Regions from separate parts of the Homo sapiens genome. Here regions 2, 3 and 4 are each linked to region 1. The links come from fine-mapping of genetic effects on gene expression. A gene starts in region 1. Each other region holds a variant in brackets. All regions are shown on one strand. Distances are from middle to middle.

Region 1 (7,419 bases):
GAGGCCAAGGCGGGTGAATCACTTGAGCCCAGGAGTTAGAGATAACTTCTGATCCAATAGAAAGCTCTAGAGCACACAGAGCAAATATACTTCATCAGTCGAGCTGTAGTTTCTCTGTAAAAAACTTCGAATGACTTCCAAAGTTCAAAAAAAAAATGTAAAGACAACAGCGTGATTGCTAAAGATTCATGTGGTCAAAGACTGGAAGAATGACACAGTGGAGGTGTTCCCTCAGGGGAATTGTGGGTGATTTCTCTTAAAAAAAAAATGCCTCTTATTGTGATACCCAATCAAGTAAAATCATGAGAGAGGAGAAAGTGGTTTGATATAAAGGAAGCACTTGGGATTCAGTGAAACCAGAAGAGAAACTAGCCCCTTCCCTTGCTCCCTGGACAACAGTCAAGTGGAACAAAGCAAACTCTAGATTGTCACAACGATAAGGCCTAGAAGTACATTGGGTGTATGCATTTTCATCCTGAGTCAGAACTACCATGCTTTTTTTAAAAAAAGATCATTATTCCTGGCCAGGCGTGCTGGCTCATGCCTGTAATCCCAGCACTTTGGGAGATTGAGGCAGGTGGGTCACCTGAGGTCAGGAGATCCAGACCAGCCTGGCCAACATGGTGAAACCCCTTCTCTGCTAAAACTACAAAAAATTAGCTGGGCATGGTGGTGGCACCTGTAATCCCAGCTACTCAGGAGGCTGAGGCAGGAGAATCACTTGAACCTGGGAGCCAGAGGTGGCAGTGAGCCGAGATCACGCCATTACACTCCAGCCTGGGCAACAAGAGTAAAACTCCATCTCAAAAAAAAAAAAAAAAAAAAAAATCATTATTCCTTGGGGGAAACAGTACCTGTATCAAGATGTTTTGGTCCAGGCACAGTCTCTCAGGCCTGCAATCCCAGCACTTTGAGAGGCTGAGACAGAAGGATCCTTTGAGCCCAAGAGTTCAACACCAGCATGGGCAACATGGAGAGACTCCTGTCTCTAAAAAAAAATTTATTTTTTATTTATTTTTTGAGACGGAGTCTTGCTCTGTCACCCAGGTTGGAGTGCGGTGGCACTATCTCAGCTCACTGCAACCTCTGCCTCCTGGGTTTAAGCAATTCTCCTGCCTCAGCCTCCTGAGTAGCTAGGATTACAGGCACACGCCACCATGCCCGGCTAATTTTTATATTTTTATTTAGTAGAGATGGGGTTTCACCATGTTGGCCAGGCTGGTCTCGAACTCCTGACCTTGTGATCCGCCCACCTCGGCCTCCCAAAGTGCTGGGATTACAGGCGTTAGCCACTGCGCCCAGCCTAAAAAAAAGTTAAAATTATCCAGGTGTGGTGGCACATGCCCATGATAACCAGCTACTAGGGAGGCTGAGATGGGAAGGATCACTTGAGCCCAGAGGATGGAGGCTGCAGTAAGCTATGATTGTGCCACTGCACTCCAGCTTGGGCAACAGAGCAAGACCCTGTCTTTAAAAAAAAAAAAAAAAAAAAAAAAAAAAGCTTTTATATCTGTAAACAAAAGCCACAGCCCAGTAACCAAGAGAGGGCTGCTCTTCAGTCATCCCAGAGATGGTGCTTAATGGGGCCTGGGAGTCAGATCCCAGTTCAGATATCTGCTCTGCTGACCCTGAGCAAGTGGACGTCACTCTCTTAGCCTCGGTTTGCTCAACTGTAAAACGGGAATACTCCTGCCAGGCCTTCCCACCCACCAGGTTTTTGCAGTCTGAAATGAGAGACTGTCTCTACAGTGCTGAGGGCAATAAGAGAAATACGAAGGCTTCTAGTAAGTGCCCTCAACCTCCTCTTCTTTATAACATAGTCAACAACCAGGCAGGGTTACCCCCTCCACCACAGTGTTCAGTCGTAAACGTTTGGATCCCCAAATCTGCGTAAATTCCAAGGGGTGTCGTTTGAGCCAAGGAGGGAGCTTGCCCATTGCAACCCAGGGGTGTGGGAGTGCAATTTCTCGGCCCCTTTCCAACCCCTCCCTACTCCGCCCAGGGACACCGGCAGCGCGCCCTCACCTCTGCCCAGGACGCGGCCTCTCTCCAGGTGGCGCCGGGGCACCGTGAACGTGTAGCTCTCGGCGTCAAAGCCAGGGTGGCAGGGCTCCGGCTCCTGGCAGAGCCAAGAGGAGACCTGGGGTGGGGGAAAGGTAGATGGAACCGGGTGACTCGGAGGGTTCCCTCCTGCTCACCGAAACCAACAGCGCCGCCCCTCCCTCGCTCCCGGCGTCGGGATTGGGGGAGGACCCCAGCCCGCAGCCCCGGGACGGGCGGGCAGCGACGTCACCCTCCCCCACCCCGAAACCTACGGCCGCCGAGCCCCCAGGAACTCCCGGGAGGGGGCCGCCGAGTCACCCCCTCAAGACCTAGCCCACCGTTCCCTTTCAGTCTCCTTTCTCATTTTATTGGAGATGTCTTTATTCTCCAGTACCCCACTTTCCTTAGACCGGGAATGCACCACTCCTCAGAGCGAGGGGCGCTCCCACCTCCTCCGACCTCACTTTCTTATCCCCGGGACCCTCACTCCTATTTACGACCTTTCTTGGCATGGCAGGTGCCTTTATTTCTACGGATGCCCCTCTCCTTCCCTCGAAGATCGTCCCCACGACTCCTGGCTCCCCCTCGACTTGCACCAGGGCACCCCTTCTCCACACCCCACCCCCTACACCCCGCTTCACGCCCCCACCGCCCGCGCGAGCCCACCCCGCGGACTCCGCGGCCAGACGCCCCCGCCTCGGTCTGCGCTGGAGGGGGCAGGAAAGCCGCGCTCGCCCCTCACCACCCACCCCCCACTCCCATCACTGGGGGGTCCGGAGCGCGCGAGGCTTCCAGGCCGCTCCGCTCCTCAGGACCCGAACTTTCTTGGAAGAAGGGAAGCGGTGACGACGGGAGAGGAAGGGGCGCAGGGCTGGGGCGCGGAGCTTGCGGCCCGAATGCGTCCCTCGCAAGTCAGGGGATCCGGGGTACCTGCAGCAGCAGCAGCAGCGCCGAGAGGCTGCGGCTCCAAGGGCCCATGGCTGGCCGGGGACGCCGAGCGAGGGCAGGCGCCGGGTGCGGTCGGGTCGGGCCGGGCTGGAGCGGGCTGGAGTCTGAACTGACTTCCGCAAGCTCACAGGTGCTTTGCAGTTCCGACGCCACTGAGAGGGGGTGCGTGGCTGCAGCCAGGTGAGCCCCGGAGGCACCGCCCCCCGTACCGCTGATTGGCTGAGGGTTCACCTGCCGGCCACAGCCAATCAGCAGCGCGGACCCCTCCCCAGGGCGGAGCTGACGGCCCGCCCACCCGGCCTCGCATAGACGCGGTGACCCTCTAGCCTGGAGTTGCTAGGGTCTAGGTGGGTTATGGGACCTGCACGGTTCTGATTCCACTGGGTTCGAATCCCAGCCCCGCCGGTGGCTCACTAAGACCTGGGATCAGAAAGGGCTTTTACACTTGGCTGAGTTCTTTTGTTTTTTGGGATTTTTTGTTTGTTCGTTTTGGAGATGGGGTCTCACTCTTTCACCCAAGCTGGAGTGCAGTGGTGCGATCACAGCTCACTGCAGCCTCGAACTCCTGGGCTCAAGCGGTCCTCTGGCCCCAGCCTCTCTAGTAGCTGGGAGTACAGGTGCACACCACCACGCCAGGCTAATTTTTTTTTCTTTTGCCTTTTTGTAGAGAGACAAGTCGGGGCGGACAGGGGCAGTGGGGGCGCTGTGTCTCCCTGTATTGCCCAGCCTGGTCTCGAACTCCTGGGCTGAAGCGATCCTCCTGCCTTGGCCTCCCAAAGTGCTAGGATTTCAGGTGTGAGCCATGAGCCACTGAGCTAGCAGCCTAATTTTTTGTTTGTTTGTTTTGTTTGTATTTTTTGAGACGGAGTCTCGCTCTGTCTTGCCCAGGCTGGAGTGCAGTGGCACGATCTCGGCTCACTGCAACCTCCGCCTGCCGGGTTCAAGAGACTCTCCTGTCTCAGCCTATTGAGTAGCTGGGACTACAGGCGTGTGCCACCACACCGGCTAATTTTGTATTTTTAGTACAGACGGGGTTTCACCATGTTGGCCAGGCTGGTCTGGAACTCCTGACCTCAGGTGATCCACCCTCTTCAGCCTCCTGAAGTGTTGGATTACAGGCGTGAGCCACTGCACTCTGCCTCGAGCGGCCTAATTTTTTAAAAAATTTTTCTAGAGAGGGGATCTCACTATGTTGCCGAGGCTGATCTCAAATTTCTGAACTCAGGCGATCCTCCTGCCTCAGCCCCTTTACTGAGTTCTCATTTTTTAATCTAGTCTTTTTTAACTGTAGAGCTTCATGGGTTAGTGAGTCAGCAAATTGATTCCCTAGGTCAGGACCACCTCCCAAAGCCTCAGTTTCTCCACCCTCCTAATGGGAATAATGATCAGAAATGTCTCCCTATGCTGTTGTGGGACTCCCATACAATTAAAATGACAAATGTTTCTTGAGCCATAAATGCTCTGTACAGAAGTGAGGGGTAAAAATAGTAACAATAGGGCCAGGCATGGTGGCTCACGCCTGTAATCCCAGCACTTTGGGAGGCCGAGGCGGGCAGATCACGAGGTCAGGAGATTGAGACCATCCTGGCTAACGCAGTGAAACCCCGTCTCTACTAAAAATACAAAAAATTAGCCAGGCGTGGTGGTGGGCGCCTGTAGTCCCAGCTACTCGGGAGGCTGAGGCAGGAGAATGGCATGAACCTGGGAGGTGGAGCTTGCAGTGAGCCGAGATCGCGCCACTGTACTCCAGCCTGGGCGACAGAGCAAGACTCTGTCTCAAAAAAAAAAAAAAAAAAAAAATAGTAACAATAGGTGCTGGACATTGAAGATTACTGTGCCAGTCTCTGTGCTAAGCATTTGACACTGACCAGCTCTTTTTTTTTTGAGACGGAGTCCTGCTCTGTCGCCCAGGCTGGAGTGCAATGGTGTGTTCTTGGCTCACTGCAACCTTCGCCTCTTGGGTTCAAGCGGTTCTCCTCTATCAGCCTCCTGAGTAGCTGGGATTACAGGCATGCGCCACCACGACTGGCTAATTTTTGTATTTTTAGTAGAGACAGGGTTTCATCATGTTGGCCAGGCTGGTCTTGAACTCCTGTCCTCAGATGATCCACCTGCCTCAGCCTCCCAAAGTGCTGGGATTACAGGCATGAGCCACCGTGCCCAGCCACTGACCAGCTCATTTAAGCTCATTTCAAAACAACCCAAGAGCTGTATTATTATTCCCATATGATAGATGGGCAACTGAAGCTTAGAGAGATTGAGGCCAATGAGAGGTGGCGCAGGACTGGAACCAACCTCTCTGATTCCAGGGCCTTTCTTCTAACAATCAGCTTCATCTCATGTGGTCCCAGTCTTCCAGCTGGAGCTGCAGTTTTCAGTCTGTTTTTTGATGTTGACCTGGAAGAGACCTTTAGAGTTCACCCAAACCTATGATTTGCAAATAACTTGTTCAATGTCACATAGGCAGGTCAATGTCAAAGCCAAAGACCAAAACCCAGGATCTTCTGACCCCCAGAGTGGGGCTTTTAATGCCACAGCCACACCATGGCCACCATCACCTTCTCCAGAGAATTCTGTCCCCAGTGAAATAATTTTAGGATCAAAAATAGAATAGATAGGGGCCAAAGGTCTCAGGTCCTGGGCCAGTGGCCCTCCAGCACCCGCCGTCCTCCATCAAAAGACAAAAACAGAATAGACAGGCAAATGTTAGGTTAGACAACTTCCCTGTCTGACTCCCTGTGGCCAGCCACGTCTGGGTGGCTTGTCTACCCCGACAAGGGCACCTCCTTTCCCTTTATCCTTCAAGCATGGTTAGAACTACACAGCATTAAGTGGAGTCAGCCACTCACTAGCCCTGTGACCTTGGGGAAGTCAGTGTTCTCCTTTGTATAAGTGAATTGGCATGAGCTAATACAAAAACAATCGCTAAGCAGAGTTCTTGGCTCATCATAGCAACTGCTCAATAAATATTTGGAGTAGGGGTTACTCTTTCAAAAGGCCCAGCCCCTATTTCGCTTCCTCCTGGGGAAAGCCATGTTTGGAATATTTCACCCAGAGCTAAAGGTGCCTCTGAGTCCATCAAGTAATTTCTCAAATGCAGACGATTTCTGGGCAGCCCAGCACCGCCCCCCCCAACAACCTGTCCCCTCAATTTTAATGAGTTTCCAATCAGGTCTTTTGGATGTCGTATTTTGGCTCCCTCTGCTCTTAACCCACCAGGAGGCTCAGAGGGAGAAGGCTCCGGTATTTCCTTTCCCACTAGGATCGTGCCTTGAACAAGATAATGGAAATACAGAAAGAGGCGTTTCCCCCATGGGGCTGTACTGTCTGCTTATTTTTTTCCTCTCAGTTATGTAAAAATACATATTTTATACCATCGCTGGGCCCTGGGAGCCTTTAGGGCTTTACTTTCTTCTACCCAGCAAGCCTTGGCCTCGTAACTCTGCAGCGACTCTCATCGACTCTTCCATTACACTCTGATAATTCAATAAAAAGGATTTTAGAAAACAATTAGGGGCAGCAAAGTCAGGTCAGGCCTGATGCATTCTTCAGACTTCTCGGCAAGTCCTTCTCCAAGCTCCAAAGACAGTAGATCAGGTGTCCAGGGTGAGGCGGGAACACAGAGGGGCTCCTTGTGGAAGACAGGTGCTGTGTGACTTTCGCAACACACTGAATTGCTTCTCTGTTTCCTATTTATTTATTTAGTGACAAGGTCTTGCTCTGTTGCCCCGGCTGGAGTGCAATGGCGCGATCTCGGCTCACTGCACTCTCTGCCTCCCAGGTTCAAGAGATTCTTGTGCCTCAGCCTCCTGAGTAGCTGTGATTACAGACACACGTCACCATGTCTGGCTAATTTTTGTATTTTAGTAGAGACGGGATTTCGCCATGTTGGCCAGGCTGGTCTCAAACTCCTGACCTCAAGTGATCCACCTACCTCAGCCTCCCAAAGTGCTGGGATTACAGGTGTGAGCCACTGTGCCTGCCCTCTGTTTTCTCTTGTATCAAACAGGGATACCTAAGCAGGCCTGGTGGCTCACAACTGTAATCGCAGCACTTTGGGAGGCTAGTTGGGAGGTGAGAAGATTACTTGAGCCCAGGAGTTTGAGACCAGTCTGGGCAACATGGTGAAACCCCATCTCCCCAACAAATATTATTTTGAATTAGCTGGACATGGCAGTGCATGCCTGTAGTCCCAGCTACTCTGGAGGCTGAGGTAGGAGGATCATTTGAGCACTGGAGCCACTTCACTCCAGCCTGGATTCACTTCTGGCTCTGCCATTAGTTGAGAAGCATAAGTCATTTTATCTCCACCATCTTGGTTTCCTCATCTGTAAAATGGGAATGTTGATAGCACTTAATTCATAAGGTTCTTGTAAACACTCTGCAAAGGTGAGTGATTAGCCCTCTTGGCCCAATACATTCCCTTTC
Region 2 (7,419 bases), 25 kb after region 1:
TTGAGACAGGGTCTTGTTCTATCGCCCAGGCTAGAGTGCAGTGGCCCAATCATAGCTCACTGCCAGCCTCAAACTCCTGGGATCAAGTGATCCTGCCTCAGCCTCCCAAGTGGCTGGGACTACAGACACGGGCCACCATGCCTGGCTAATTTTTAAATTTTTGTAATGATGAAGTCTTGCTATGTTGACCCAGGCTAGTCCTGGCTTCAAGCAATCCTCCTGCCTCCGCTTCCCAAAGCGCTGGGATTACAGACAAACCACTGAACCCGGCCTTGTCTTGATACTTAAATGAGGTAGTACACATAAAGTGCTCGGAATACATTTGGTAGCTGAAAGTGCTCTACAGCTATTACCTATCACCAGGGACCTTCGGTGGGCGAGATCACAGTCCCTCAGACTGGTTGGGGAAATGGACAGGTAAAGAGACAATTACAATTCTGTGTGCTGGGTGTATTCATACAGATGCTAAGAAAACTCTAGGGGAGGAATACTAAATCCAGAAGGCTTCCTGGGGAAAAAAATGACATTTTGGCAGGAACTAAGCTGCTTGTAGGCTAAGGCAGAGGCAAAGTCGTTGAGAGACTAGAGACCAGCCATTAACTCCCTTTGCTGGGAATGTGGTGATGGAATTCACAGAAGGTTTTCAGTCCTGGATTTCAATTCCGATTTCTCAGCACCTGCCTGGGTCTCAGGTCCTGTGCTTGGTGCTGGGGTGAGGGTAGAGGCTGAACATAATTAGGCAAAGGTGCTCAGTGAGCTCAAGATCTAACTGGGGGGCTGGGTGCGGTGGCTCACGCCTATAATCCCACCACTTTGGGAGGCCAGGGTGGGCAGATCACCTGACGTCAGGAGTTCGAGACCAGCCTGGCCAACATAATGAAACCCCGTCTCTACTAAAAATATAAAAATTAGCTGGGCATGGTAGCGTGTACCTGTAATCCCAGCTACTTGGGAGGCTGAGGCAGGAGGATTGCTTGAACCCAGGGGGCGGAGGTTGCAGTGAGCTGAGATCGAGCCACCGCACTCCAGCCTGGGTGACAGAGCGAAACTCTGTCTCCAAAATAATAATAATAATAATAATAATAATAAATAGAATAAAAATTGATCAGATTTGGGCAGGGATGGGGTGAGAAGAAAAGGCACACCAGGTAGGGGAAACAGCACAAGCAAAGGTAAAGCAGCAGGAAGGCCTATATTCCAGGAAGGGTGCATTGCCCAGTGTGGCTGTGTGGTCTGTACCTGGGGAGCGGGACAGTGGGCAGGAGCCAGGGCTATAAGGTCAACCTAGGCTGGGATTTGAAGGGCGTCCAATGACATGCTGCTTGGCCCTTGTCCAGTAGGTCATGGGAACAGAACGGAAGTGTTTAAGCAGAGAAGGGATGTGATGGGATCTGCGTTCCGGAAAGGTCACTCTGGCATAGCTGGAGGAGGAGTCCTTGGGAAGCAGGGAGCACAGCTGGGAGGCTCCTGCAATCATCTCAACAAGAAATCTGGGGGTTTGGCCTAGGTCAGGGGAGGTGGGCACCGAGAGGAGGGGTGGAGGGTTTGTAAGCAGACTCTGAAACACTTGAAATCAACACCTTGACACTATTCCCTGGCAGCTCCAGGGTCGGGATGTCTAAAATCCCTGGAAAAATAAACTTGCTCCCGCCTCAGCCAGCAGGAAGAAGAGCAACCCGATATGCTTGTTGATTAGGATTAGGGAACTTTTTCCCCCTTTATTGAGGGTCAACTGAATTATTAGTGGGGCAAAAGAGACAGGGGGAGACATATAAAAGTGAAGCGACTTAATTTTATTGTTTTTCCTTGACGGAAACAATGTATGAGATAGATCAACATTTAAAATGTTTTTCAAGGGTCATAAAGAGTAGTCAACCAAAAACAATCTTGACTTCATTTCCATAGAGACACAGAGAGTGGGGAGAGGAGGGACAGAAGGGCGGGGAGATCACAGGAGGAGGGGAGACAGATCAGAAAGGGAGGATGCTGCACTGGCTGCGAGGGGGCTGCTTAAGAACCTTGGAATTGACCAGGCACGGTAGCTCATGCCTTTAATCCCAGCACTTTGGGAGGCTGAGGCGGGTGGATCACCTGAGGTCAGGAGTTCGAGACCAGCCTGGCCAACATGGTGAAACCCCAACTCTACTAAAAATACAAAAATTAGCTGGGCATGGTGGCACAGGCCTGTAATCCCAGCTACTTGGGAGGCTGAGGCAGGAGAATTGCTTGAACCCGGGAGGCGGAGGTTGCAGTGAGCCAAGATCGAGCCACTGCACTCCAGCCTGGGTGACAGAGGGAGTCGCCATCTCAAAAAAAAAAAGGAACCTGGGAATTGAGAGGTCCTGAGTTCAAATTTCAGCCAAGTTCTCCCACCGTTCTCCCATATCTGTCAAATGGGGATTATAACATCTTCACCATCTGCACAATGTTATGGTATTGGATTTTCATCTTAGAAAGATCAGATCACTCTGGCCACCTGATTGGAGCCAGATAAGAGAAAATGTACCCATAGACTACCCGCTCTTAGAATGCTTTTAAGACAAGGTTATTATAATTATTATGACCATTATTATTATTGTTGCTATTATCGTAGCTTTATTATTATTTTCTTTTGAAATTCTGCTTGGCCACTGTTTACTCCCAGCTCCAGCTGCTCTTGTTGAAACCTCTCTGGGCCGGGTGTGATGGCTCACGCCTGTAATCCCAGGATTTAGGAGGTCAAGGTGGGAGGATTGCTTGAGCCCAGGAGTTGGAAACCAGCCTGGATAACATGGAGAAACCCCATCTCTATAAAAAGTACAAAAATTAGCCAGGCATAGTCACATGCACCTGTAGTGCCAGCTACTCGGGAGGCCGAATGGGAGGATTGCTCGAGCCTGGGGGGTTGAGGCTGCAGTGAGCTGGGATTGTGCCACTGCACGTCAGCCTGGGTGACATCGCGAGAGTCTGTCTCAAAAAAAAAAAAAAAAAAGAAAACAAAAAAACCCAAGAAACAAACAAAACACAAGGAACATCTCTGGACTCCTAGCTTCCTAGGATCATGCAGGGTGGAGGGTGCACTCTCAAAACTTCCATCTTAGGGCTGTCCTGGGAGCACTGGCTGCTCCTCCATCCCTGGGCTGCACCCAGAGTAGACAGGGCTGCCTTGTTCCTCTTATCCTCCCACTCCACTGTCCGATACTGAAAGGTGACACAAGCAGGGTTCCTCTGCTCCTCTCTGTGAGTCAGTGCCCATGCCCTCGCCCTCGTGCCCCCTACTCAGGCCTCACCCCTCAGCTTTTACTTCTCTTCCTGGGAAACCACCCCAGTGGGGAGGCAAAGAAGATGAAATAAAGGATGTAAGTTCCCACGGGACCACCACTTCCCCTTTCCCTTCCTCTCCAGCTGCTGGCCACTTCCC[C/T]GTCCCCTCTCCAGTGGGAAGCAGAACAGAGGCTGTGGGAAACCGGCACCATACCGTCCCTGGCATGGGCGCAGCCAGCCCTGCGTGCAGCCAGCCCTGTGTGCAGTTCCTCACCTGTGTAACCTTGGGTAGCCCTGCTGCACCTGAACTTCCTCACTCACAGGTCCCCCAGCCGCCTCCAAGTGTTCAAAATGCCCAGAACTCTGCACTGCCCTCCTCACACCTGCTCTTTCTCTTTCTTTCTTCTTTCCTTTTCTTTCTTTTTCTTTCTTTTTTTCTCTTTCTCCCTCTCTCTCTCTCTGCTGGAGTTTCACTTTTGTTGCCCAGGCTGGAGTGCAATGCCGCAACCCAGCTCACGGCAACCTCCGCCTTCTGGGTTCAAGCGATTCTCCTGCCTCAGCCTCCCGAGTAGCTGGGATTACAGGCATGCGTCACCATGCCCGGCTAGTTTTGTATTTTTAGTAGGGACAGGGTTTCTCCATGTTGGTCAGGCTGGTCTCAAACTCCCGACCTCAGTGGATCCGTCCACCTTGGCCTCCCAAAGTGCTGGGATTACAGGCATGAGCCACCTCGCCTTCTCTCCTCCCCTCCCCTCCCCTCCCCTCCCCTTTCCTCCCGTCCCCTCCCCCCTCCCCCCTCCTTCCCCTCCCCTCCCCTCTCCTCCCCTCCCCTCCCTTCTCTCCTTCCCTCTCTCCTTTCTTCCTTTCTTCTTTTCTTCTTTCTCTCTCTCTCTCCCTTTTTCTCTTTCTCTCCTTTTTTCTTCTGAGACAGAATCTCGCTCTGTCGCCCAGGCTGGAGTGCAGTCACTCAATCTCGGCTCACTGCAACCTCTGCCTCCTGGGTTCAAACGATTACTCCTGCCCCGGCCTCCTGAGTAGCTGGAATTACAGGCGCCCGCCACCACACTCGGCTAATTTTTGTATTTTTAGTAGAGACGGGGTTTTGCCATGTTGGCCAGGCTGGTCTCAAGCGATCCGCCTGCCTCGGCCTTCCAAAGTGCTGGGATTACAGGCGTGAGCCACCGCGCCCAGCCATAGTTTTTCAATCTAAGCTCTATTGACTTTTCAGAGGGAGGATCATGTGCTGTGGGGGCTGTCCTGTGCATTGTAGGGGGTTTAGCAACATCTCTGGCCTCTACTCATTAGATGCCAGTAGCACCCCCACTCCAGTGGTAACAACCACAAATGACTCCAGACATTGCCAAATATCCCCTGAGATGGCATAACTACCCCTGGTTGAGAACCACTCGGTTAGGGTGACCAGCTGGGATGGCGAGGCATCCTCAGACTAGCAAATGGGAAGCCAGGGCAGCCCTTAGTCCTAACAGGGCAAGTGCAGAAACTGCCTTTCAGACCCCAGGGAGTGTTGGAGCCATGGAAGAGGGTCCACATGACAGGAGCTGTGGCCATAGAGGGTGCAGAGCGCAGCCAGTGCCAAACCCAGCCCGGCAGGGAGGGAGCAGGCGGAGGGATACTGCCACTTCCCCTCCTTCCCGCCCCATCTCCTGTGGGTTCCTTCCCCCAATGTAACCAACCTAATCCAGAACACAGGGCAGCTAGGGCTGCCTCCTGGTTGCAGAGCAGCGGGAAGAAGGGAAGAGAGTGGATCTGGGGGAAACGGGGAATTAACCAGCGCAGAGGCCATTGTGGCCATCCCAGTTGGGGTGCTGGTGGCTGGGACAAAGGTGGTGGTGGAGAATGGACAGAAGTGGTTGAATTCCAGGATATCTGGGAGGACTCCATGGATGATCAGCATGGGCAGTCAATAAAAGGAAGGAGTTGAGGACAAGGTGTTTAGGTTTCTGGTTTGGGCAGCTGGGCTGATGATGGTGCCGTCTTTAGAAATGAAGGAGACAGAAAAAGGAGGCCAGGCGCGGTGGCTCACGCCTGTAATCCCAGCACTTTGGAAGGCCGAGGTGAGTGGGTCGCTTGAAACCAGCCTAGCCAATATGGCGAAACCTTGTCTCCACTAAAAATACAAAAATTAGCCGGGCGTGGTGGAGGGCGCCTACAATCCCAGCACCTTGGGAGGCTTAGGTAGTAGAATCGCTTGAACCTGGGAGGCAGAGGTTGCAGTAAGCCGAGATTGTGCCACTGTACTCCAGCCTGGGTGACGGAGGGAGACCCTGCAACCCTGCTCACCCCACTGTAGACTGCACCTCCATGAACCCTTCTCCGGTCACCTTTTGAGCTTGCCTCTCTTGCTTGCCAGCACTCTAATTGACAAGAGTGCTTCTGCGCCGGGTGCAGGGGCTCGTGCCTGTAATCCCAACACTTTGGGAGGCCCAGGAGGGAGGATGGCTTGAAGCCAGATCGAGACCAGCCTGGGCAACACAGTGAGACCCCTTCCTTACCAAAAACAAAAAATCAGCTGGGGGTGGTGGTACACACCTGTAGTCCCAGCTATTCAGCAGGCTGAGGTGGGAGGATTGCTTGAATCCAGGAGGTCAAGGCTGCAGTGAACTGTGATTATACCACTGCACTCAGCCTAGTAGATGGAGTGAGACCTTGTCCCAGAAAAACAACAAATAGGCTGGGTGCAGTGGCTCACACCTGTACTCCCAGCACTTTGGGAGGCTGAGGTGGGCAGATCACCTGAGTTCAGGAGTTTGAGACCAGTCTGGTCAACATAGTGAAACCCAGTACCTAATTAAAAAATACAAAAATCTGCCAGCATGGTAGCTCACACCTGTAATCCCAGCACTTTGGGAGGCCGAGGTGGGTGGATCACCTGAGGTCAGGAGATTGAGATCAGCCTAACCAACATGGTAAAACCCCGTCTCTACTAAAATACAAAAATTAGCCAGGTGTGGTGGCAGGTGCCTGTAATCCCAGCTACTCAGGAGGCTGAGGCAGGAGAATCGCCTGAACCCGGGAGGTGGAGGTTTCAGTGAGCTGAGATCATGCCGCTGTACTCCAGCCTGGGCGACAGAGCGAGACTCGGTCTCAAAAAAAAGAAAAAAAAAAAGAAAAAGAAAGAAAGAAAAGAAAAGAAAGAAAGACAGAAAAGATAAAGCATTGGGGGGTGCAGGGCTGCAATTCTAAGGAGGATGCAGTCCCCTTCAGGGCTGGCATCTCTGACAGGCTGACATGTGGGTGATGCCTGAAGGACGTGAGGGAGCCGAGAGAAATCTAGGGGAATGGCATGCCAGGCAGAGGGCACAGCAAGTGCAGAGGCTCTGAGGAAACGTGGTTTGATTTGGAGTGAAACTTCAGCGTTTTACCTGGCACATGGTAACTGCTTAATTTGTTCAAGTCCTACTAATTATCTTTTTTTTTTTTTTGAGATGGAATTTTGCTCGTCACCCAGGCTGGACTGCAGTGGTGGGATCTCGACTTGCTGCAACCTCCACCTCCCAGGTTCAAGGATTCTCCTGCTTCAGCCTCCGGAGTAGCTAGGGTTACAGGCGCCCTCTACCATGCCCCACTATCTTTTGTATTTTTAGTAGACATGGGTTTTCACCTTGTTGGCCAGGCTGGTTTTGAACTCCTGGCCTCAAGTGACCGGCCCGCCTCGGCCTCCCAAACTGCTGAGATTACAGTCTTGAGTCACTGCGCCCAGTCTATCATTCTTGTAATTAGTGGGCATCGTCTTCCTGGAGTGCCTGGGTCGTCAGGTTCCTGGAGGACACACAGAGGTCTCAGCGCCCTGCCCTGTCAGCTGTGGGCTGGCCGTGGTTTACCGGATGGACAACAGTGGGGACAGAAGTTGGAACGGAGCCCAGGCATTCCTGACCCGCCCCGCCCCTCTCAGATTCCTCCCCGGCCCGCCACACCCCTGCCGCTTGCTGGGCAGTGGGTACAGGGAATGCAGGGGTGGCTTCCCACCCCACCTCTAACTTGGAGAGGGCCTAATACCAAGCGAGGACAAGGCTGGCAGTGACCACCTGGCGATCCCCAACTGCACTGCAGGCTCAGCGCTAAACACTGAGTGCTTTTCCACCATCGCCTCCTAGGGGTCTCCTTTCAGCCCACTGAGAGGCCAGGGTGGTGAGTCACTCCCACATCTGCAGCCTTTAG
Region 3 (7,419 bases), 520 kb before region 1:
GTGAAAGGACACAGGTGCATGCCACCACACCCAGCTCATTTTTTTGTATTTTTACATTTTTTGTAGAGATGGGGTTTTGCCATATTGCCCAGGTTGGTCTCAAGCTCCTGGTCTTGAGCGATTCTCCCACCTCAGCCTCCCAAAGTGCTGGTTTTACAGGTATGAGCCACCACACCCTGCCTCATATTTTCTTTTTATTTGCATAAAGAAACTCTCAAAAGATTCAATAGAAAGGAATAAGAGTTGTTACCTTTCCAGGGCAAAAGGCATAACAGGTGGATAGGTAACGGGAATGAGGGCAAGAGTTTTCACCCATTAATTTTTTGTTTGATTTTTCAACCATGTGAACGTGCTACCTTTTTAAAATCATGAGGATTTTGAACAATGCCAAAAGCACAGAACAATTACTATTCAATTCAGTTTTTCAACTAGCATATAAAATATAGAAACAATGATAAACACAACTAAAATGTTAAAATTTTCAAAGTCATAAGTACTTATATCATGACTTTCATTAATTTTTTATTCTAATTATGCTTTATAGAAATGATCACTGTACTAATATTACATTCTCATTTATTATAATTTTATTTGAAATGTTCATAAAAAGTTGAGAAGTGGCAAAAAATAAAATAAAAAAATTACTCTCGCTGGTGACCAAAATTGGCCCCTCAATTACCACAATTACTTGGTACCACCAAGATCACCAGGCACCACCCACAGACCTACCACATCAGAACTGCTTTGGGGACAATATCCTCCTCAAATAAAATCAACCTCAACTTAAAAAAAAAAAAAGTTAGAACTATGTTGGGGAGGAAGGTGGGAACCAGTGGGAAACTGTACTTGAAAAAAAAAAATCAAAAATGAAAGAACAAAATCCTTCCTGTGCTGATTCTGCTTTTTTGGAAACCAGTTATTTAGTCCACTCCCTGGCCCTTTGCACACACAACTAGGATTCAAAACGTAAGTTTCGAAAAGACTCAAAAGCAGTGAAAAACAGAGCTAGCACTTAAACACTCATCTCTGAACCCCCTAGTCCAGTCCTTTTTTTTCAAGCCCCTCTAGCCTAGTTGATGGTGAAGAAAAAAGATGTAACATAATGTCACACGGAACTTTTACTCTCCTTTTGTCAAACCTGGGATCTAAAATAACCTGGGTTTTCAAGTTCTTTTCCTTTAACTCAACATCCACTCAGACTTTCTTGTTTCTCTTTTTTTCACTTTTCAGTTATGGAAGACAATTGTACCTCTGTCTAATTGTAAAGTATTTTGTATATTTTATACTTTTCCCAGAGCAGAGGAATCAACTATAGCCTGCTGCCCCTAGAAGCTCTTCCAGTAGGGAACAAGGGTTGGGAAACTATGACACTTGGGCCAGATCCAGCCAACCACCAGTTTACTTGTCTTTGTAAATAAAGTTTTACTGAAACGCAGTCACACCCATTCATTTTCCTATTGCCTATGACAGTTGTCTTGCTACAACAGAAGAGTCAAGTAGCCGTGACGCTATCTTGCCCTTTACAGAAAAAGTTAGCTGACCCTGATCTAAAATCATGAAAATTATCCTCTGTCATTAAGGACAGAGATGGTAATAAGAACTTCTTTAGTAATAGTATGATAGTGATTACTATGTCAGCTACTTCTGGTTGAGTGGATAATTAGCAACAAATAGACAAAGGTAGAAGGAGAAAAAGGGAGGTGAAACAAAACACTGAAAAACAAAAGATCTGCAAGCTAGATATCCAGGTCCTAACTGCATGGTAAGTATTACAGATATATTAAATGAGGAACCATCCTGGCACTGAATGGGAACCAGGTGATACTCTGCCCTGCCTCCCAGCCTACCTGTTCTGCCAGCCAGGCAATATGCTTCACCTCTTTACTGCCTCCTGCTGTACTGGTTGCCCCAAGCATGGCGTTGAGTTCAGCCAACACCTGTGGGAGGAGAGCCATTATGTTGGTGTGGATAGCTACGAACCAGGAGTGTGCTGTGGCTGTATCTTTGCAGCGTAGGATCAACGTGTTCCTGCTATCAGGAGAATGTAGCTCTATCAATCTGTGTGGAAAAAGAAAAAAAAAAAAGTGAGCTAGGACAGAAGTCACCAAACCTGCCAGGTTTAAAATACATAACTGCAAATCTATTTTAATTTTGCATTCTTCAAATAAATTTGTATACTCAAATAAAGATACTTTCTTGGCTGGGCACGGTGGCTCATGCCTGTAATACTAGCACTTTGGGAGGCCAAGGCAGGGGGATTGCCTGAGCTCAGGAGTTCGAGACCAGCCTGGGCAACACGGTGAAACTCTGTCTCTGCTAATATATAAAAAATTAGCCGGACATGGTGGTGGGTGCCTGTAATCCCAGCTACTCAGGAAGCTGAGGCTAAGGCAGGAGAATCGCTTGACCCCAGGAGGCGGAGGTTGCAGTGAGCCAAGATCACACCACTGTACTCCAGCCTGGGCGACAGAGCGAGATTCCGTCTCAAAAAAAAAAAAAAAAAAAGATACTTTCTCTTAATTCCCTAGAGTCCAGTTCCAAAGAAAACAACACATGGAAAGATAAAAATCAGAGGCCGGGCACGGTGGCTCACTCCGGTAATCTCAGCACTTTGGGAGGCCAAGGCGGGCAGATTGCCTGAGGTCAGGAGTTTGAGGCCAGTCTGGCCAACACAGTGAAACCTTGACTCTACCAAAAATACAAAAAATTTAGCCGGGCGTTGGGGCGTGTGCCTGTAATCCCAGCTACTCGGGAGGCTGAGGCAGGGGAACTGCCTGAACCAGGGAGGTGGAGGTTGCAGTGAGCCGAGATCCAGCCTAGGTGACAGAGCGAAACTCTGTCTCAAAAAAAAAAAAAAAAAAAAAAAAAAAATCAGAAAGACCAACTTGGGCTAGTTACTGAACCTGAGAAAAAATTAAAAAAAGAAACACCAACTGCTGGATCTGTCGTTTCGGTGTTAATGTAATAAGCTGAGGGAACTTACTGTAGAGTCTACAGTAGATCACTTTGCCTTAATTTCTATGTCTAAAAAATGAAAAGCATGCTTGCTGAACCACATAGGCACACTGTAAAGAAGGAACTGATACCCTTTTAAGCATTTAGGAAATTCTGGTATAAAGTAGTGCCAGCTTAAAAAGATGTACTGCCATATAATGAACTGAAATTTACATTATGTGAAATAAATAGAAAATTAGCGGCCAGGCATGGTGGCTCACGCTTGTAATCTCAGCACTTTGGGAGGCTGAGATGGGCAGATCACCTCAGGTCAGGAGTTTGAGACCAGCCTGGCCAACATGGCTAAACCCTGTCTCTACTAAAATATACAAAAATTAGCCAGGCGTGATGGCACATGCCTGTAATCCCAGCTACTGAGGAGGCTGAGGCAGGAGAATTGCTTGAACCCAGGAGCTGGAGGTTGCAGTGAGCCAAGATTGCACCACTGCACTCCAGCCTGGGCGACAAAGCGAGACTCCCTCTCAAAAAAAAAAAAAAAAAAAAAAAAGAAAGAACAAGAAAATTAGCAGAAGATTATTACTCTGTAAAATTTGAAACTGTGTTTGGGTACTTTTATATGATTACTCCTCCAGTGAATTAGGTAGAAAAATAGTTAAGAGATCAACACTATAACTGTTCTGTATTAATGCTCACCAAGAGCAATCTGTATTTCAAAAGTAACCTTTAGAAAATAGCTAAAATATTTTAAATATACATTGAAAAAATTATTTATAAAGCAATCTATTGAATATTGTTTTGTGTTTCAATCAAAGTTCTTGCAAAGATGAATTTTAAAAGTCAAATAAATAAATAAATGACTAAGATATATACTCTGCTGTGAACATATATATCTTTTAAAATGGAAAAAAAAAGCCTTTAGTGTTTTTCATGGTAGGCTACAAATTGACAAACTGCCAATGACCAGGGAGAGAGTTTTCTTTACATTATTTTCTGAAGACAGTTTTTGCTGCCTAAAAGCACTATCATCAGATTCTATGCCACTTGTCAAAAAGATAAGCAATTTACAAGTATACTAGCATTTCTGCTTTGAAGCTCTTTTGTCAGTTTCTAAACCCTTTATAACTCCAAATACTTTAAATTGTCATATTTTGTATTGCAAATATTCATTTTCATTTGAATTCTGGTTGGTCTATCCTTTCTTAAATAAACATTTATTGAGCACCTACTACATGCCAAATATTGTGCTAGGCACTGGTATTGGAGATACAGTGATGAAAAAAGTAGATCATCTAGCTACTTCCAGGCCTACCTACCAGTCTATCCATCTTTTATATGCTGTCAAAGTTCTATGGTAACAGCAAAATAGGACAAAAGTTCTAGAAAATAGAAGACATAAAATAAGAGTTGTGGCTGGGCGCGGTGGCTTACGCCTGTAATCCCAGCACTTTGGGAGGCCGAGGCAGGTGGATAACAAGGTCAGCAGATCGAAACCATCCTGGCTAACATGGTGAAACCCCGTCTCTATTAAAAACACAAAAAATTAGCCGGGCGTGGTGGTGGGCGCCTGTAGTCCCAGCTACTCGGGAGGCTGAGGCAGAAGAATGGCATGAACCCGGAGGCGGAGCTTGCAGTGAGCCGAGATCATGCCACTGCACTCCAGCCTGGGCAGCAGAGCAAGACTCCGTCTCA[A/G]GAAAATAAATAAATAAATAAATAAATAAATAAATAAATAAATAAATAAGAGTCATGAACAGCCAAAGGGCTTAAGAAAAGTCCATATTTGAAAGTTCATGTTACTCAGAGGAAAACTTTCAGATAAAAAGTTTTAAGCTATTTGCTTTTTATTTAGATACAGTTCTGATGAGCTCTTTGATTTCCTATTCTATACCTAAACATATTAAGACATAGCTTGGTTCCAGAATTTAGAGGATCTTGAATAGCAGGTTAGGTCTGAATATTAATTGGTAACTTTTTTTTTTTTTTTTTGAGATGGAGTCTCGCTCTTCGCCCAGGCTGGAGTACAGTGGCACGATCTCAGCTCACTGAAACCTCTGACTGCCGGGTTCAAGCGATTCTCCTGCCTCAGCCTCCCAAGTAGCTGGGATTACAGGTACATGCCACCAAGCCTGGCTAATTTTTTGTATTTTTAGTAGAGACAGGGTTTCACCATGTTGGCCAGGCTGGTCTCGAACTCCTGACCTCAAGTGATCCGCCTGCCTCGGTCTCCCAAAGTGCTGGTATTACAGGCGTGAGCCACTGTGCCTGGCCTTAATTGGTAACTATTAATAACATAGAATCATTTAGAATTCTCAACAGGAGGGCAACATGATCAAAACAATTAACTTAAAAAATAATTTTATGAGACATTTGTACACCCATGTTTATAGCAGCATCATTCACAATAGCCAAAAGGTGGAAGCAACCCAAATGTCCATCAATGGAGGAACAGATAAACAAAATGCAGTATATACATATAATGGCATTATTCAGCCTTAATAAGGAAAGAAATCCTAACACATGTTACAACATGCATCAACATTGAGGATATTATACTAGTAAAATAAGCCAGTCACGAAAGAAGAAATAACATATGAGCCTACTTTCATGAAGTATCTAGAGCAAACTCACAGAAAGCAGAATGGTAAGTGCCAGGAGCTGAAGGAAGGGTGAAATGGGGAGTTTTTCAATGAGTAGAGTATTTTAGTTTTGCAAGAAGAAAAATTTCTGGACATTGGTTGTACAAAAATATGAATATACTTAACACTTCTGACCTGTACACTTAAAAATGATTAAGAAATTTCATGTTATGTGTATTTTACAATTTAAAAAAAATTAGGCCAAGTACAGTGACTCATGCCTGTAATCCCAACACTTTGGGGAGGCTGAGGCGGGGAAATCACTTGAAGCCAGGAGTTTGAGACCAGCCTAGGCAACAAAGTGAGAACCCATCTCTACAAAACTTTTTTTTTTGAGACGGAGTTTCGCTCTTTCACCCAGGCTGGAGTGCAGTGGCCCGATCTTGGCTCACTGCAACCTCTGCTTTCTGGTTTCAAGCGATTCTCCTGCCTCAGCCTCCCGAGTAGCTGGGACTACAGGCGCCGGCCACCACGCATGGCTAGTTTTTGTACTTTTAGTAGAGACGGGGTTTCACTATGTTGGCCAGGCTGGTCTCGAACTCCTGACCTCATGATCCGCCCGCCTCAGCTTCCCAAAGTGCTGGGATTACAGGCGTGAGCCACTGCGTCGCCCCCCACCCCAACCAATTTTTTTTTTTTTTTGAGACAGAGTTTACCTCTTGTTGCCCGGGCTGGAGTGCAATGGCGCGGTCTCAGCTCACTGCAACCTCCACCTCCTGGTTTAAGCGATTCTCCTGCCTCAGCCTCCCCAGCTGGGATTACAGGGAAGTGCCACCAAGCCTGGCTAGTTTTTGTATCTTTAGTAGAGTGGGGGATTCACCATGTTGGTCAGGCTGGTCTGAAATTCCTGACCTCAGGTGATCCACCCGCCTCAGCCTCCCAAAGTATTGGGATTATAGGTATGAACCATCGTGCCCAGCCCCAACAAAAAATTTTTCTTTCTTTCTTTTTTTTTTTTTTAAGACGGAGTCTGGCTCTTTCGCCCAGGCTGGAGTGCAGTGTCGTGATCTCGGCTCACTGCAAGCTCCGCCTCCCAGGTTCACGCCATTCTTTTGCCTCAGCCTCTCGAGTAGTTGTGACTACAGGCACCACCACCATGCCAGGCTAATTTTTTGTATTTTTAGTAGATACGGGGTTTCACCATGTTAGCCAGATGGTTTCGATCTCCTGACCTCGTGATCCGCCCACCTTGGCCTCCCAAAGTGCTGGGGTTACAGGCGTGAGCCACTGTGCACGGCCCTCAAATTTTTTTTTATCAGCCAGGCATGGTGACATACATCTGCAGTCCTAGCTACTAGCGAGGCTGAGGCGGGAAGATCTCTTGAGCACAGGAGTTCGAGGCTAGAGTGAGCTATGATAGTACCACTGTACTCCAGCCTGGGTGACAGAGCGAGATCCTGTCTCTAAAAAATAAATAAATAAAATAAAAATAATAATAAAATAATTTTATGGTGGGATGTGAGATGAATTACAATAAAGACAGAAATGGCCTGGTGAGATTTAATTGAATGCAAGAAGAATGAGACTACACACAGAAGTCATCAGTAGGGACACAGATTACTGGGCAGAAATTCTTCCATCCTAAGAGCCCATTGCAGCCTTGACCATACAGGTCTCAAGTGATCCTCCCACCTCAGCCTCCCAGTTAACTGGGACTACCACAGATGTGCACCACCACACCCAACTACTTTAAAAAAAAATTTTTTGTAGAGACAGGGTCTCACTATGTTGCCAGGCTGGTCTTGAACTCCTGGGCTCAAGTGACCCTCCTGCCCTGGCCTCCTAAAGTGCTAGGATTATAGGCATGAGCCACTGTGCTTGGTCCCTCTGT
Region 4 (7,419 bases), 74 kb before region 1:
AGAGCTGAGGGAAGGAGAATGTTTCTGGGAAAGAGCCTATTAAAGCAGATAGTACTTCTTTTTCAATTTCAGGATCCTGTGTAACAGCTTCTTGATTTCTTTTTTTTTTCAGACAGAGTCTCACTCTGTTGCCCAGGCCAGGGTGCAGTAGCACGATCTTGGCTCACTACAACCTCTGTCTTCCAGGCTCAAGCGATTCTCCTGCTTCAGCCTCCCAAGCAGCAGGGATTACAAGTGTGCACCACCACGCCCAGTTAATTTTTGTATTTTTGGTAGAGACAGGTTTTCACCATGTTGGCCAGGCTGGTCCCAAACTCCCGACCTCAGGTGATCTGCCCGCCTCGGCCTCCCAAAGTGCTGGGATTGCAGGCATGAGCCACCATGAGCCACCAAGAAGCCTTAGCTTCTTGATTTCCTTTTTTTGAGACGAAGTCTCACTCTGTTGCCGGGCTGGAGTGCAGTGGCACGATCCTGGCTCACTGCAACCTCCCTCTCCTAGGTTCAAGCGATTCTCCTGCCTCAGCCTCCCTAGTAGCTGGGACTATAGGTGCACACCACCATGCCCAGCTAATTTTTGTATTTTTAGTAGAGATGGGGTTTCACCATGTTGGTCAGGATGATCTCGATCTCTTGACCTTGTGATCTGCCCGCCTTGGCCTCCCAAAGTGCTATGATTACAGGCGTGAGCCACCACGCCCGGCCTCCTTTTCCCCGCCCACCCCTGGAGACTGAGTCTTGCTCTGTCACCCAGAGCTGGAGTGCAATGGCACGATCTTGGCTCACTGCAACCTCCACCTCCCAGGTTCAAGCAATTCTCCTGCCTCAGCCTCCCTAGTAGCTGAGATTACAGGCACGTGCCACCATGCCTGGCTAATTTTTGTATTTTTAGCAGAGACTCAAACTCCTGACCTCGTGATCTGCCTGCCTCAGCGTCCCTAAGTGCTGGGATTACAGGCGTGAGCCACCACACACAGCACAGTTTCTTGATTTCTTACATGAGCAGGAAGAGCCACTGCAAATCCCACATGGTCCACTACAATCTGGGAAAGTCACCCTGTCCCCCTGCCAAAGCGAATCTACTTCTAAGAAGATACCAGGGGACAAGGGTATGAACAGCTGTGAGGATGCCAGTTTCTGCATCTTGCCAGGTACCATACAAACCTTTGCTGTTTTCAAAATGCCATCGTTGTTCACTGGATTTGTGGTGACGACAAATTGTCCACCATCATCATTCAATATGGTGTATACAGCCTCCCACGCTGGGGTATTGGGGGCATCAGCATCAGTCACTTTCAGTGTGGTGATTACGACGTTAGCCTCGTTCTCAGGCACCTGACCCTTGTACTGCAGAGCAAAGAGATGTGTCATTTACAAAGTACCAAGACTGCTAGCAGAGCTGAGTCTCAGGGGGCTAAAGGATTCCTCTTTTTTTGTTGTTCTTTTGAGATAAGATCTCACTGTCACCAGGCTGGAGTGTATTTGAGCGATCATGGCTCACTGTAGCCTCAACCTCCTGGGCTCAAGCAATCCTCCCACCTCAGCCTCCAGAGTAGCTGGGACCACAGGCATGCACCACCACACCTGGCTAACTGAAAGCAAGCTTCAAGGAGAAGATGTGACAAGGAGAGGCCAGGCAATGGGCGCACTGGGGTGCAATGGTACAATCTCGGCTCACTGCAGCCTCCGCCTCCTGGGTTCAAGCAACTCTCATGCCTCAGATGCCCGAGTAGCTGGGATTACAAGCATGCACCACCACGCCCAGCTAATTTTTGTATTTTTAGTGGAGATGGAGTTTCGCCACGTTGGCCAGGCTGGTCTCAAACTCCATCCTCAAGGGATCCACCAGCCTTGGCCTCTCAACTTGCTAGATTACAGGTGTGAGCCACCACGCCTGGCCATTATACAGGATGATTTAAACTTACCCTACTTGGTTCTCAATACCTTCTCCTTGAATGCATGTAATATCCTTGGCATACAATAATTCTCATAAGATGTCTTCCTGGCTATACCAGAAACACCATGAGAATGGAATCTTTGTGTGTGATGGTCTCTCCAGTGTCTAACACAGTGCCTAATATAAACTTAGAAAATATTTGTTCAATAAAGAAATGAAACCAGGTAATATTTGCTATAAAAATGTACCATGAGACTATGAAATCAGTAGGTGCTTTTTGCAACTTCACAATCTTGCACCAATTGGCCCCAGGCCAAGGGTGGAAAAAAGATACTAAAAGACAACTGCCATCTCAAGATGCTTGCTTTTAAGTTTAAAGTTAACATTCTCTAGTCTGGAGAGAGTTTTCAAAGACTTCGCCCATGAGCAGTGGTGACACTTAGTTCATGAACAACAAAAGACCTTTCTTTGGAAACCCTCTAAGGAGTTATAGAATTACCGTGGTGGGATTGAAGATCGGAGGATTATCGTTGGTGTCAGTGACTGTGATCACAGCTGTTGCTGTTGTGCTTAACCCCTCACCTTGAAGGTCAGCAGCTTGAACCACCAGGGTATACGTAGGGAAACTCTGCAGAGAGATCGACACAACCAAGTCAGGACCAGGAACACTAGCCACCTTTGGCCTAGCCCAGCCCAACACATGGAACCAGAATATTTAACCATGTGCTTCATGCCAGCCTGCCTGTCTTCTAGGCACGGAACCTCTGGGCACAAGCTTAGATGCAAAGCTTAGACCATCACTGTATTAACTGACAACTGGCCTAGCAGGATTTTGCTTTGTCCACGGGATTGAGCTAATACACATTTGTCCTCCACACCCTCTGGATCCTCCTGACCCCTGACCTCTCGGTCCAGCCCAGTGGTGACCACACTGATGACTCCTGTGTTCCTGTTAATGGTGAACATATTTTTGTCAGGGAGCTCAGGATCTTGGCTGAGGATGGTGTAAGCGATGGCGGCATTGTAGGTGTTCACATCATCGTCCGCGTCTGTGGCTGTGACCTCCATCACAGAGGTTCCTGGAAGAGTTCAAGGAGATGAAGGTTTAGACAAGCTGCACTTTGGGACTGGGTCAATACTGCTTAATCCAATTCTGCCCTGAGGGATAAAGGAGGGGACATGGGGGTGGTACCGTGTCAGAGTTCCCTAATTCCTAGAATTCTTACCAAAGTGCTAGGGGAGAAAGAAAGCTCAAACTATCAACTTATTATCCAGGTATAAATACACAAATGGTAATAAAGAAAAGAAAGGGAATGATTACCACAAAAGTCAGGGTGTGGTTATCTTTTTTTTTTTTTTTTTTTTTGAGACGGAGTTTTGCTCCTGTTGCCCAGGCTGGAATGCAATGGCGTGATTCGGCTCACCACAATCTCTGTCTCCCGGGTTCAAGCAATTCTCCTGCTTCAGCCTCCCAAGTATCTGGAATTATAGGCATGCGTCGCCACGCCCAGCTAATTTTCTATTTTTAGTAGAGACAGGGTTTCTCCATGTTGGTCAGGCTGGTCTCAAACTCCTGACCTCAAGTGATTTGCCCACCTTGGCCTCCCAAAGTGCTGGGGTTACAGGTGTGAACCACCACACCCAGCCTAGGGTGTGGTTATCTTTATGGAGGAGAGAAAAGAATGTGACCAAGGGGGATTGTTTAGGGCTTTAAGGTACTGGTAAAGATCTGTTCCTTAATTAGGAAGGTTGTTCTTAGCCAGGTATAGTAGCTCATGCCTATAATCTTAGCAGCTTGTGGGGCTGAGGTGGGAGGATTGCTTGGGCCCGGGAGTTTGAAAGTAGCCTGGACAACAAAGCAAGACCCTGTCTCTGAAAAAAAAATTTTTTTTTTTTTGAGACGGAGTCTGGATCTGTCACCCAGGCTGGAGTGCAGTGGCGTGATCTCAGCTTACTGCAACCCCCGCCTCCCGGGTTCAAGCAATTCTCCTGCCTCAGCCTCCCAAGTAGCTGGGATTACAGGCCCCCGCCACCACGACCGGCTAATTTTTTTGTATTTTTAATAGAGACGAGGTTTCACCATGTTGGTCAGGCTGGTCTTGAACTCCTGAGCACAGGTGACCCATCCACCTTGGCCTCCCAAAGTGCTGGGATTACAGGCATGAGCCACCATGCCCAGCCTAAAAAAAAAAAAAATTAATAATAAAAAAGGGAAGATTGTTCTTAAACTCTCCCTATTTTATATGTTTCCACAGGTAGACTGTTACACACATGCATATAACACAACAATGGCTTGCCAAGAAGTTCTGTCCGTAGGAAGGATCAGCTTTAGTTACACAACCTTTGGGCTTGGACAACACTTTGGGGTCCAAAGAACCTAAGAGTCTTTCTGAGTATTCAGATTCTCATTAGTGGATATACCTGGAAGAGCACCTTCCATGACAGACCCCTTAAAGACCTCCTGGGTGAATTCGGGCTTGTTGTCATTCTGATCGGTTACCGTGATCAAAATCTCCATTGGATCCTCAACTGCATTCCCGTTGGATGACACAGCGTGAGAGAAGAGCTGAAAGAACCAAGTGAGGGTGACTTGAGCTCTGATGAGGAAGAAAACATGGGAGAAGGGGCCCAGCCAGAGCAGAGTGCGC[C/T]CCCCTGGCTGCCACACCTTCCTAGGCTCTGAGACCCCCAGTGGGTGACTTTTCTCACACATGTGCTGCTGCTGCTTCAGTGAGATTATAACAAGGTAAGAGCCATGGGCTGGAGAACACCCCCCACGGCTCAGACCTCCCATTTCCCACACGAGGACCAGGGCATCAGGCCTAGAGATGAAGATGCGGGCCTGAAAAACTCTTATTCCATGCCGGGTGAAACTTGCTCTGGTCCTTTTAGTCTAGCATTTCCCCCAGATATTTCTGAATTTGGCATCAATATATGACTTCCTGGCCAGGCATAGTGGTTCATGTAATCTCAGCACTTTGGGAGGCCGAGGTGGGCAGATTGCTTGAGCTCAAGATTTCAAGACCAGCCTGGGCAACATAGCAAGATCTTGTTTCTACAAAAAATACAAAAATTAACTGGGTGTGGTGGCCTGCGCCTTTAGTCTCAGCTACTCAGGAAGATGGGGTGGGAGTGTCGCTTGGGCCCAGAAGGTCCAGGCTGCAGTGAGCTAAGATTGTACCACTGCATTCCAGCTTGAGTGACACAGGTAGACTCGGTCTCAAAAAAACAAAAATCCAAAACAAAAACAAATGACCTCTTGTAGGCCGGGTGCAGTGGCTCCCTCCTGTAATCCCAGCACTTTGGGAGGCCAAGTAGGGTGAATCGCCTGAGGTCAGGAGTTTGAGACCACTCTGGCCAACATGGTAAAACCTCATCTCTAATAAAAACGCAAAAAATTAGCTGGGCATGATGGCAGCTGCCTATAATCCAGCTACTCGGGAGGTTGAAGCAGGAGAATCACTTGAACCCGGGAAGTGGAGGTTGTGGTTCCAGCCTGGGTGACAGAGTGAAACCCTATCTCAAAAAAAAAAAAAAAAGACCTCTTGGTTTTCCTAAGCTCTTGCTGCTGCCAAGCCCAAGAAATGGGTTTTGCTCCCTTATATCATCACTGTCCTGTTCCTTTAGGTCAGGGACTTCCAGCCCCAAGAACAGGTTGACATCTTGGGTCTAAATTTGTCCTGGTTGTATGAGGATGCATGCGGATTCTCCTTCCTTTCTTCCTGACAAGGAGAAAAATTAACAACCCCAAACTGTCCCACGTTCTCCCATCACTTCTCCTTAGCAACAGGTCAAGAGGTGTCAAGTTAAGCTCCTCATGTGTTCAGAGCCTCTGATCTGCGGATCCAGCATGGGTTGACCAAAAAATCCTGGGTGGATGTTACCCCGGTGTCAACAAGCTTCTAAGAGATACTTACAGTGTATGTGGCAATGCGTTCTCTATCCAGAGGCTCTGTCACCTTCAGCCATCCTGTTTCTCTTTCAATAATAAAGACACCAACAGGGGGTGTGTCAGCTCCTTGGCCAGTGATGCTGTAGAAAACCTTGCCTTCTTTGTCTTTGTTGGATTTGATCTGAAGACAAAATGAAAGAAAAAGAATTAGTAAAGAAGGATCCCAACACTGGGTCTTTTCCCTTTCTCTCCTTGGTACTTCTCTGCCAAATCCCTCCCAGAGAAACAGAGAACTTCTTTCTCTACCTGAACCAGGTTTTTAGGAAATGGGCCTTTTTCATTTTCTGGGCAGCTGATGGGAGGAATAACCCAGTCTCTCTTCTGTCTTCTGAGGCCAGGAGAGGAGTTGGGAAATGTGAGCAATTCTGCTTGGATTCCAGAAACGGAGGCCTAAAAGGAAAGAAGATGAGGAACAAGATAAGACAATTCAAGACGGATACTTCAGGTCTAACAGTCCAACCTAGCCAGACAGCGTCCCCAGCCTTCTGTGGGCAGTGTACAGTTTGAATTTAATGACACATTCTCTTATCAATGACAAATTATATATATCCACCAAAATGACCAATCAAAACAAAAACCAATGAGACCCTTTGCTATATCGTAAAGACTGCATTCTCTTTTTATCCTTCTTAGTGTCCAGAGCTCAAATAATCATCATGCATACACAAGTATTGGTTTCAGGGTTTGATATTATAATTTACAAGCTGTTTCAAGCCTACATAATCTCATTTTTATTTTTTTGAGACAAGATCTGGCTCTATCACTGAGGCTGGGGTACAGCGGCAAGATCTTGTCTCACTGGAACCTCTGCCTCCCAGGCTCAAGCCATCCCTCCCATCTCAGCCTCCTGAGTAGCTGGGACTACAGGTGTGCACCACCATGGCTGACTAATTTTTGTATTTTTAGTAGACGTAGGGCTTTGCCATGTTACCCAGGCTGGTCTCGAACTTGTAAGCTTAAGCAATGTGGCCTCCCAAAATGCTGGGATTACAGGCATGAGCCACCACACCCAGCCCATAATATAATTTTTAACAGCAACATTATACTCTGATGATTTAATATCAGAGCTTACTCAACAACTGAATATTTGGGTTTTCGATTTCTTTTCTTTTCTTTTTTTAAATAGAGACAGGGTCTTGCTCTGTCACCCAGGCTGGAGTGCAGTGAAGTGATCAAAGCTCACTGCAGCCTTGAACTCCTGAGCTCAGGCAAGCCTCTGACCTCAGCCTACCAAGTAGCTGGAACTACAGGCATCCACCACCATGCACCACCATGTGCACCTAATTTTTTAAATTTTTTAAATTTTTTTAGAGGCAGGGTCTTGCCATCTTGCCCAGACTGGTCTCGAACTCCTGGGCTCAAGCGATTCTCCTGCTTTGGCTTCCCAATTTGCTGGGATTACAGGTGTGAGTCACCGCACCCAGCCTCTTTTATATTTTTCTTGGGGACACAGGTCCTCAACGTGGAGTTATCCCAAAACAAGTAGATTTTGAGAACTTGTACTAAGAACTACTTTGTGATCAATATAAATCTCTTCATCTCACTGTATCATTATGTCTATATGGTTTCCATTTGT

Evidence for each region. PIP is the estimated chance that this variant, and not a neighbour inherited with it, causes the effect.
Region 2: its variant is fine-mapped to the expression of CDH1 in whole blood (TOPMed, PIP 0.98).
Region 3: its variant is fine-mapped to the expression of CDH1 in whole blood (INTERVAL, PIP 0.95).
Region 4: its variant is fine-mapped to the expression of CDH1 in whole blood (INTERVAL, PIP 0.99).

Annotation. Positions count from the first base shown.
Region 1 is chr16:68,733,018-68,740,436 of GRCh38, reverse strand. It overlaps CDH1 (cadherin 1), which reads right to left and starts at 3,145. Exons shown (of 16, transcript NM_004360.5): 1 at 2,974-3,145; 2 at 2,026-2,140. The coding sequence starts at 3,021. It also overlaps a transcript of CDH3 not described here. RefSeq lists a silencer at 3,030-3,099, a cis regulatory region at 4,052 and enhancers at 3,980-4,124, 7,172-7,419.
Region 2 is chr16:68,707,590-68,715,008 of GRCh38, reverse strand. It overlaps a transcript of CDH3 not described here. Among named protein-coding and RNA genes, the nearest start is that of CDH1, 26 kb to the left of the region's middle. RefSeq lists cis regulatory regions at 689, 7,143, enhancers at 617-761, 3,140-3,639, 3,640-4,141, 7,071-7,215 and silencers at 3,180-3,229, 3,260-3,309, 3,380-3,549, 7,289-7,419. The variant C/T (reference allele first, on the strand shown) is at 3,401.
Region 3 is chr16:69,254,689-69,262,107 of GRCh38, reverse strand. SNTB2 (syntrophin beta 2) reads right to left here. Exons shown (of 7, transcript NM_006750.4): 3 at 1,848-2,058. Among named protein-coding and RNA genes, the nearest start is that of VPS4A, 53 kb to the left of the region's middle. The variant A/G (reference allele first, on the strand shown) is at 4,645.
Region 4 is chr16:68,807,238-68,814,656 of GRCh38, reverse strand. CDH1 (cadherin 1) reads right to left here. Exons shown (of 16, transcript NM_004360.5): 4 at 6,090-6,233; 5 at 5,809-5,964; 6 at 4,316-4,460; 7 at 2,798-2,973; 8 at 2,394-2,522; 9 at 1,162-1,344. Among named protein-coding and RNA genes, the nearest start is that of TANGO6, 33 kb to the left of the region's middle. The variant C/T (reference allele first, on the strand shown) is at 4,543.